3 linked regions of the Homo sapiens genome follow. The gene in region 1 interacts genetically with each later gene. Each region holds a gene or a part of one and is shown on either strand. Other genes may lie near its edges.

Region 1 (2,917 bases):
GGGTTCAAGCGATTCTCCTGCCTTAGCCTTCCGAGTAGCTGGGACTACAGGCGCGCGCTACTACACCCGGCTAATTTTTATATTTTTAGTAGAGACAGGGTTTCACCATGTTTGCCAGGCTGGTCTTGAACTCCTGTCCTCAGGTGATCCACCCACCTTGGCCTCCCAAAGTGCTGGGATTACAGGCGTGAGCCACTGAGCCCGGCCCATTTTTTACTTTTATCTGCTATAAAATTTGAATTTTGTTATGACATAGCCTATCTTAGTTGATGAATATATTAACCACTTTCAGGTTGGAATTTTTTTTTTTTTATTACCTCTTCCAGGCATATAGCCACATGCTATCATCAGTGGAAAAGCTACATTCCTGACTGCTCTCATTTTGAATTAGAATTTGAAGTCTAATATAAATAAGTGGGTTACTTTTCATATTTCTGATTCCTAAGGCTGGCTGAGATTAATTTACCTTCAAATTTAAAAATATACCTACTATAAAAATTTTAATTAAACTCTTTGTAACTATTTTATAGTAGAACATCAACATTTTCTGGATAGGTAAAAGCTTTTATATTACATTTTTATTTTGCAAGAAAATAAATTATACAACTTAAAAAATAAAATCCAAAAATTAAGCAGTTCATCAAAATATTTCAGCCTACTGCATACAGAAACTGCTACCACTTAAAATTGTACAGCATTATCATCTCAGTATGTAGTGGCACACATTCAAAATCGTATAGACCATATGAGGATAGATTACAACTTAGAAACTAAAATAAATTTGTTCAACACTCCAGACAACATATAGTGTAGATGACAGGAAAGCTCTCATGTAATGTTTATTTCACAAACATGACCTTGGAAGAATTCATAAGACAGCATCCCAGTCACTTACATGAGAACAGAAAAACCAGCTTGAGTTTAAGATAGCAAATCTTTCTGTAAAACTAGCAAATCTTTCACCCAGACTGAAGTTTTAAAATTTGCCCTTTGAGCAGTGCTAGAGACATCTTACTGCAAATAATGCAAAATACTTTTTAACTACTCAGGTCATATTTTCTATTAAATTTAATAAAAAGTAAAAGAAAGAAAGCTAACATTTCATTTTTGGAAGGTTTAACATTTATGCACAAAATAAGAGCAAGAGACTTAAATAAAAAAGTTGACAGAACTCAGGGACCCCTCCAATAAATGTAAAAATTGGAAGACTTCAGAATTTATTTCAAGATCCTCATTTAATCATTGGAATAGTAATATTCTAATATTTATCTCATTGTGACCATCAAAATTTTTCTATATTTTTACTTCTTAAACTCTGTCTTATGTCTACTTACTCCGGCAACGAGATGGCAACACAAGTTAACATTTTCCAGATGGGATGTCTCTGTCTTTAAACTAGAAGATGGGTATTCAGAGGTTAAGATAGCCTCTGAAGTGTCTTATTGCCATACCACTAATTTTTAAAAATTAAATTTTTTTTTTTTTTTTGGAGGGGGAGGCTGGATTTTCTTTTCACTTAACTGCAGGTTATATCCCTGCTCGGCACCAATTTTAAGTGTACGCTGGAGAGAAGAGACCTGAATAAAGGATGCCAACTGTGATTCCAGACCTTTACAAACTGCTGGTAAGATTTTTTTTTTCATTTTTTTTTAAATTAGCAAATCTGTTGTTAAATTACTTAAAGAAAATTTAACAATGGCATAGGCACCTTGTCAACTAAATGATTTTCATAAACACCAAAAAGTAGTTAAAACTTTTGTATACATAACCAAAAAAAAAAAAAAAAGAAAACTGTACATTTACAGTATTTGCTGCTGTTCATTCCCCAAAATACAATTAGGACATAATTGGCTATTAAAAATTTATAAAATTTAATAAAAAACTTTGCTATGAATGTAGTGTTACCCACTTTTGCATTAAATTCACCTTCATAAATCAAAACATCATGACTCTCATTCTTAAATTAAATGACCCAAAATTAGAAGTTCCAAAAAAGTTCTGAGAACAATTATGGTTTAAAACAACAAACCTAAATTTTTAAAATGGACGGCAATTTTTCCTGTTTCCTCCTTTGGCATTCTTGTATTGGGACAAGCAAATACGCCAATGCTGAATTATCTGTTAAACATAAGGGCCACAATTACTACAAAATTATTTCTTCTAAATTCCAAATATACCCATTATGAACAGTCACCTAATTAGAGAAAACTGTACGTATTAATTTTAGTTTAATTCTTCACAATATGCTCGGTCTAATAATTGACATTTGCTACCTTAAAGTGTAAAATTTTAAACAAAATTCCAATTTCCTATAAGTTTCAGAACAGGCATTTGGCTATACTCAGCAAAACTCTAAATGTTTTAAAGTTGCTTTCCTTCCATTCAGCAGGCAGTTCACAAAGCCTCTTCGGATGGGGACAGATCCTACGAAATGCTCTTGAAAGCACTCCACTGTAACATAATACTGTATGCCTTTCTGTACTCCATTTCCTACTATCTTCAAAAACCATACTTTAAAAATATTACTTAACATCAAATAAGATATAAAATAATTTGCAAGAAAATTTGAAACGTGCACCACAATGAATAAAAATCCACGTTGAGCCATTCTTTCCTCAAGGGGAATCAATTTTCTCTTTCAAGTTGTTCACGTCCTCAAGTCCTAAAATTTCCACTACTCTGGGTATTCAGTTGCCAGCAACTAGTTAAGTTGCTACTTTGGATAGACTGAAAGGAACATGGTAAATGTTGCCTTCTGACGATTTAAAAAATGTTTATTTTTAAAATATATAAATATATATGTACATATATTTGGCAAGTTTACTGCTCGTATTAAGAGTGCAACAATTTTGCTTCTGTTTTTCAGGTCTTATGTTGTGGTTTTTCTCTTACCCCTAGGTGACTGATTCAAACCTGA
Region 2 (3,735 bases), on another chromosome or scaffold:
GCACTCTGGGAGGCCAAGGTGGGTGGGTTGCTTCAGCTCAGGAGTTCCAGACCAGCCTGGACAACATGGAAAAACCCCGTCTCTACAAAAAATACACACAAAAAAATTAGCTGGGCATGGTGGCCCATGCCTGTGGTCTTAGCTACTCAGGAGGCAGAGGCAGTAGGATTGCTTGAGCCTGGGATCTTGAGGCTGCAGTGAACTGTGATCGTGTCACAGCACTTTAGCCTGGGCAACAGAGCAAGACCTTGTCTCAGAAAAAAAAAAAAAAAAAAGAAACGGAGCTAAACATTATGTTCATGTAGGCACTATCATAAAAGATGTCAATTCTTCCCAAATTATCAGATAAATTTTAGGCAATCCCAATCAAAATTCACATCAGGGTTTTTTTTTTTTTTTGGTAAAATTTGCAAGCTGCTTCTAAATTTTTTGTGGAAGATCAAAATGTCAAGGATAACCAAGACCATTTCGACAATGAAATGTGAAATCTTTACCAGATAATACTTACTATAAAGCTGTGGATTGAAAGGGAATATGAAGAAGTGAAAATAATTTATTTATTTATTTTTTAAACAGGATCTCACTGTCCCCCAGGGTGGAGTGCAGTGGCGTGATTTCAGCTCACTGTAACCTCAGCCTCCTGGGTTCAAGCGATTCTCCTGCCTCAGCCTTCCGAGTTGCTGGGATTACAGGCGCCTGTCACCATGCCCAGCTAATTTTTGTATTTTTAGTAGAGACAGGGTTTCACCATGTTGGCCAGGATGGTCTCGAATTCCTGACCTCAGGTGGTCCACCCACCTCGGCCTCCCAGAGTGCTAGGATTACATGCGTGAGCCACCACACGTGGCCTGAAAATAATTTTTAAGGTGGTGAAAGTTTTCTTTCTTTAATCCTTGTTGTTTGTGGCCTTGCTTTTAGAAATTATGAATTATATTTGAAGTTTTTTTTTTTTTTAAATCGAAGAGGAGGGTCAGAAGTACAAAAGACTAGGCTGGGCATGGTGACTCACGCCTGTAATCCCAGCACTTTGGAGGCCGAGGCGGGCTGATTGCTTGAGATTAGGATTTCGAGACCAGTCTGGCCAACGTGGTAAAACCCTGTCTCTACTAAAAATACAAAATTAGCCAGGTATGGTTATGCACGCCTGTAATCCCAGCTACTCAGGAGGCTGAGGCAGGAGTATCTCTTGAACCTGGGAGGCGGAGGTTGCGGTGAGCTGAGATCACGCCATTGCACTCCAACCTGGGTGACAGAGTGAGACTCCATCTCAAAAAAAAAAAGTACGGAAGACTGATGAAGAGGAATTGTTACTGTTACTCAATGATTGTCCAAGAAACAGAAGGAAATACTTCTATTTTCACGTGATTGTCAAATACTCACTGTTACTAGTTTTAAAAAAAAGACTTTGTAACAATTTTTACTTGTCAATTAAAAAAATAAATGAACAAAAAAAAGGACTTGTGGATATGCCAGAGGCTCCCTCTTACTTTGTGTTGAATCTCTCCCCAAGAGGTCCTCACGCTTGTTCTTTATAGAAACTAGAATAGTACGATCGGCCCTCCGTATCCACAGGTTCCGTATCTGCAGATTCAACCAAATACTCTGAAAATATTTAGAAAACCACAACAATAAAAATAACACAGGCTGGGCACCGTAGCTCACGCCTGTAATCCCAGCACTTTGGGAGGCTGAGGTGGACGGATCATCTGAGGTCAGGAGTTCGAGACCAGCGTGGCCAATATGGTGATACCTTGTCTCTACTAAAAATAGAAAAATTAGCCAGATGTAGTGGCTCATTGCCTGTAGTGCCAGTTACTCGGGAGGCTGAGGCAGGAGAATCGCCTGAACCTGGGAGGCGGAGGTTGCGGTGAGCAGAGATTGCACCACTGTACTCCAGACTGGGCAACAGAGCAAGACTCTGTCTCAAGAAAATAAAAAATAAAAATTACAGTTTAACTATTGATATCACATCTACATTTCATGAGGTATTATAAGTAATCTAGAGAAGATTTAAAGTATAAGGGAGGATGTATGTAGGTTTTATGCAAAAATAATGCTATTTTATATAAAGGACTTGAACACCAGGGATTTTGGTATCTTTGAGGGGTCTTGGATCCAGTGCCCTGCAGAAACCAAAGAAAGACTATATCTGGAGGAAGAGTAAGAAGATGGTTGGACAGTGAAGATTTTGGAGTCAGAAAGTCCTGGGTGATATTACTCCAGCCCACATGAAAAAAAAGAAAAAGTCAGTCCTGGGTGGCAATGAACTACAGTTCTCCCATTGCTGCTTCCCAGTTGTGTCATCTTGTGCAACTGTATACAGTACTTAAAATGTCTATTATGGGTTGAATTGTGTCTCCCCATCCCCCAAATATGTTGAATTACTAATCCCCAGTGTCTCAGAATGTGACCTTATTTGGAAATAGGGTCATTGCAGATGTAATTAGTTAAGGTGAGGTTTTACTGGAATAGGATGGGCCCCAAAGCCAATATAACTTGTGATGTGAAGACAGACACACAGAAAGAATCCCATATGATGATGGAGGCAAAGGCTGGAGTTACACTGCAAGCCAAGGAAAGCCAGAGATTGCCAGCCACCACCAGAAGCTAGGAAGAGGGAAGGAGGATTTCTTTATAGCTTTCAGAGGAACGGTGGCCTGCCTTCCTGGCACCTAATTTTCTACTTGGAGCCTCCAGAACTATGGGATGATACATTTTTTTTCTAAGTCACTCTGTTTGTGATACTTTGTTAATGCAGCCCTAGGAAATGAACAGACCATCTAAAACTTGGTTTTCTTCATTATATAATGGGGATCCTGTTACTTAGGCGTGATTGAGAGTAATTACTTCAATGGTATGTGTAAGGTGATAAAAAATATGTTAACCAGTCAGGAAATGAGAACTGCTATTACTGTTATTTTTATCACCATTATAGTGACCGTTTTCCTCCATACTTTCTCTCCATGTGGTATAAATTTGTCATGTTGGAATATATGTTGTTTCCCCCATTATAGGCTGAATATAAAAAAGCTGTAACCACTAATCAGTGGCACCGAAGATTAGAGTTTCCAAGTGGAGAGACAATTGTTATGCACAATCCAAAGGTAATGATGGTGTTCAAAATTTTAAGGTATTAAGTTCATTTTAATATTTTTCTGTGTATGTTTGATAAATTGTTCATTTTTAGTAACTTCTACAGTGGGAATGTTTTTGTAACAAGTGCATTGCTTTTAAAATACTTTATTATTATAGTGGATAATACAGATATTATTTCTATGATTCACACTGATCATAGAAACAAAAACACAAATTTTTCGTAGGGCGAGGTGCACACCTGTGAGAGGCTGAGACAGGTGGAATGCTTGAGCCAGGGGGACAGCAGAACCCTGTCTCTATAAAAAATAGAAAAATTAGCTGGGTGTAGTGGCACATGCCTGTAGTCCCAGCTACTCAAGAGGCTGAGGTGGGAGGATTACTTGAGCCCGAGAGGTTGAGGCTGCAGTGAGTCAGGATTGCTCCCCGCTGCACTCTAGTAGCCTGGGTGACAGAGCAAGACCTCGTCTCAAAATAAAAAGTAAATTTTTCTCAGGCTGGGTGTGGTGGCTCACACCTGTAATCCCAGCGCTTTGGGAAGCCAAAGTGGGAAGATTGCTTTAGGCTAGGAGTTTGAGACCAGCCTGGGAAACAAAGAGACTCTGTCTCTACAAAAATTAAAAAAATTAGCTGAGCATAGTG
Region 3 (3,500 bases), on another chromosome or scaffold:
CAGGTTAAGCAGCAGCATCAGAAGGGACAGAGTAACCAGGCCCAGGCACGGAGGAAGTGACCAGCCCCTCCCTGTCCCTTCGAGTCCAGGACAACAACGGGCAGAAATCGAGAGTGTGCTCTCCCCGGCAGGCCTGAGAATGAGTGGGAATCCGGGACACCTGGGCCGGGCTGTAGATCAGGTTTGCCCACTTGATTGAGAAAGATGTTCCAGTGAGGAACCCTGATCTCTCAGCCCCAAACACCCACCCAATTGGCCCAACACTGTCTGCCCCTCGGGGTGTCAGAAATTCTAGCGCAAGGCACTTTTAAACGTGGATTGTTTAAAGAAGCTCTCCAGGCCCCACCAAGAGGGTGGATCACACCTCAGTGGGAAGAAAAATAAAATTTCCTTCAGGTTTTAAAAACATGCAGAGAGGTGTTTTAATCAGCCTTAAAGGATGGTTCATTTCTTGACCTTAATGTTTTTCCAATCTTCTTCCCCCTACTTGGGTAATTGATTAAAATACCTCCATTTACGGCCTCTTTCTATATTTACACTAATTTTTTTATCTTTATTGCTACCAGAAAAAAATGCGAACGAATGCATTGCTTTGCTTACAGTATTGACTCAAGGGAAAAGAACTGTCAGTATCTGTAGATTAATTCCAATCACTCCCTAACCAATAGGTACAATACGGAATGAAGAAGAGGGGAAAATGGGGAGAAAGATGGTTAAAATACATAATAATCCACGTTTAAAAGGAGCGCACTTGTGGCTGATCTATGCCAGATCACCATCTTCAAATTGGCACAACTGAAATTTCCCCACTCTGTTGGGGCTTCCCCACCACATTCATGTCCCTCTCCCGTGTAGGTTTCACATTATGTCCAGGTGCACATAGGTGGTATTGAATGCTCAGCAGGGTAGGGGCTGACCACTGTCCCTGATTCCCATCGTTCTCAGGCGGATTTTATATTTTTTTAAAGTCTATTTTAATGATTGGATATGAGCACTGGGAAGGGGACGCTAACTCCCCTTGATAAAGTCTCGGTTCCATGGAGGACTTGAGTGGCCCCAAAGGCTGCCACGGTGCCCTCACCCCAGCCCATGTGCTCCCATAAGGGCTGGTTCCTAGAGGCAGGGGTTGTGGGGCACTCCCAGCCACGGCACTGTTACCTTGGTGGTGGGACTTGGAACCCAACCCTGAGCTCCCGATAAAGCTAAAGTCCATCATCTGGCAAATTCAGTAAATTGGAGAGTACTTGCTTCTGTTTGTATCTGAGAGGAATTTTTAACTGACGGCTTCTGTCTCCATGAATCATTATCAGCATGATGAAAGGTGTGTCTAAAAAACAATTCAGAATACCAGCAGCATTGTACAGCAAGGGGTAAATAAGCTTAATTTATTAATTTACCAGGCTTAATTAAGATCCCATGGAGTGTTTAGCCCTTGTGGGAGACAGAAGCCATCAGTTAAATGAGGTTAGGCCTCTCCTCCTAATATACTGATTGACAATGCATATTAGCCAGGTAATGCACTTTAGCTACCCTGGACAATGCTATCAAGTGTGCTGGGAAGGGAGGAAGGCCTCTCTACATATGGAAAAGCCCATGCGTGGAGTTCCCCTCCTTTCAACATTGCAACAACAGTAACAACAAGACAACCGCAACATGTGGGCGTAGTCAGGCAATGCTGTGTGCGAAGTAAACTACCTCAAGGTATGAAGTTACCTCAGCAATTATTTTCCTTTTTGTTCCCCCCAACCCCATTAAAAAAATTTTTTTTTGATTTTTGTTTTTTTGCAGCTTGCTGATATTTTATATAAAAAAGAAAAGCAAAGCAAAAGAGAAGCTGATAGTCTTGAATATTTTATTTTTTTAATGAAAAGAAAAAACAAGAAAGTTATGTTTCATAATTTCTTACAACATGAGCCAGTAACCCTTTAGGAACTCTCTATGGAGAACAGGCCTGGTGGGAAAGGCTTTGGGGGCTGCCCCCTTAGGAGGAGGCTAGTGCTAAGAGGGAAGGCCCAGGTTTGAGAGAGCCCAGAGGGGCAGAGCCCAGAGCCTTGTTTGGCCCTGATCTCTGACTTCTAGAGCCCCAGCTGCTGGCGGCTGCTGGAATATCCTACCTGATAGGATTAAAAGGCCTAGTGGAGCTGGGGGCTCTCAGTGGTTAAACAATGCCCAACAACCAACCAGCTGGCCCTTGGTCTCCTCTCTTTCCTCCTTTGGTTAAAGAGCATCTCAGCCAGCTTTTCCCACCAGTGGTGCTGTTGAGATATTTTAAAATATTGCCTCCGTTTTATCGAGGAGAGAAATAATAACTAAAAAATATACCCTTTAAAAAAACCTATATTTCTCTGTCTAAAAATATGGGAGCTGAGATTCCGTTCGTGGAAAAAAGACAAGGCCACCCTCTCGCCCTCAGAGAGGTCCACCTGGTTTGTCATTGCAATGCTTTTCATTTTTTTTTTTTGTTATTGTTTCATTTCAGTTCCGTCTTGCTATTCTTCCTAATCTATATCCATAGATCTAAGGGGCAAACAGATACTAGTTAACTGCCCCCACCTCTGTCTCCCTGTCTTCTTTAGATCGGTCTGATTGATTTTAAAAGTGGACCCAAACTTAGGGAATTCTTGATTTAGGGTGGCTGGTGGCAAGGAGGGGCAGGGGATATGGGGACGTGACTGGGACAGGTTCCTGCCTTATCATTTTCTCCCTAGGACATTCCCTTGTAGCCCCCAGAATTGTCTGGCCCAAATTGAATAGAAGCAGAAAAACATTTAGGGATAACATCAGGCCAGTAGAATTAAGCCTCTCCACCTGTCCCAACCATAAAAAGGGTCTCCCAGCTTTCCATCTCTGGCTCTATATGCTTTATCCCAAAACAAAGCAGATAACGTTCAGACGTCGGCCATTTAGTAATTTAAAGCGAATTTCCAGCAGCAAGCATGCTTTGATATCTGGTTCAGACTATCATCAGGAAGAAAAAAAAATCCCACAGTACCTGAAATGTGATTGTTGCAGTGTTCAGTTTCCTTGGGGGCCTGCTCCCTTCACACCTTGAGCCCAAGTCCTTTTCCGTTGGCTGATTCAGCTCCCAGAAGAGACGAGGAAGTGTGTGGCAAGGGACTGGAAAACTTCACTTGCTTGGATTAGGCAAGGCTCCACTCATTGTTGATATTTGCCCAGCAGGAAAATCATGTAAGTTATACCACCAGAAAGCAAAAGGAGCATGGTTTGGTGGTTAAGGTTTAGTGGGATGAAGGACCTGTCTTGGTGGGCCGGGCCCTCTTGTGCCCCGTAGGCTAGGTCTTAGGGCAACTCCTTGCCCTCCTGCTCAGCACCTCCATTTCCCCATCCTTGGTGAGATAACAAGCTATCGCGAAAAGCACTTGGGAGATTTGGATGATTTGAGAAGAGTGACTTAAAAAAAATGCTTCTGTGCTCTAAGATATATATGTGTGTGTGTGTGCTACATATATATTTTTAAGAAAGGACCATCTCTTTAGGAT

The links.
Region 2: changes in CUL5 (region 1) and SEC23IP together harm fitness less than expected from each alone (positive genetic interaction), as found in Homo sapiens cells (one large-scale study listed by BioGRID).
Region 3: changes in CUL5 (region 1) and IGF2BP1 together harm fitness less than expected from each alone (positive genetic interaction), as found in Homo sapiens cells (one large-scale study listed by BioGRID).

Annotation. Positions count from the first base shown.
Region 1 is NC_000011.10:108,105,408-108,108,324, reverse strand, and holds the end of CUL5 (cullin-5), read right to left. Parts: 3' UTR 2,119-2,917; coding exon of another isoform or gene 2,038-2,118; 3' UTR 564-2,037; downstream 1-563. UniProt on the Homo sapiens protein: Core component of multiple cullin-5-RING E3 ubiquitin-protein ligase complexes (ECS complexes, also named CRL5 complexes), which mediate the ubiquitination and subsequent proteasomal degradation of target proteins.
Region 2 is NC_000010.11:119,906,027-119,909,761, forward strand, and holds part of SEC23IP (SEC23-interacting protein), read left to right. Parts: intron 1-3,014; coding exon 3,015-3,104; intron 3,105-3,735. UniProt on the Homo sapiens protein: Plays a role in the organization of endoplasmic reticulum exit sites. Specifically binds to phosphatidylinositol 3-phosphate (PI(3)P), phosphatidylinositol 4-phosphate (PI(4)P) and phosphatidylinositol 5-phosphate (PI(5)P).
Region 3 is NC_000017.11:49,049,385-49,052,884, forward strand, and holds part of IGF2BP1 (insulin-like growth factor 2 mRNA-binding protein 1), read left to right. Parts: coding exon 1-60; 3' UTR 61-3,500. UniProt on the Homo sapiens protein: RNA-binding factor that recruits target transcripts to cytoplasmic protein-RNA complexes (mRNPs). This transcript 'caging' into mRNPs allows mRNA transport and transient storage.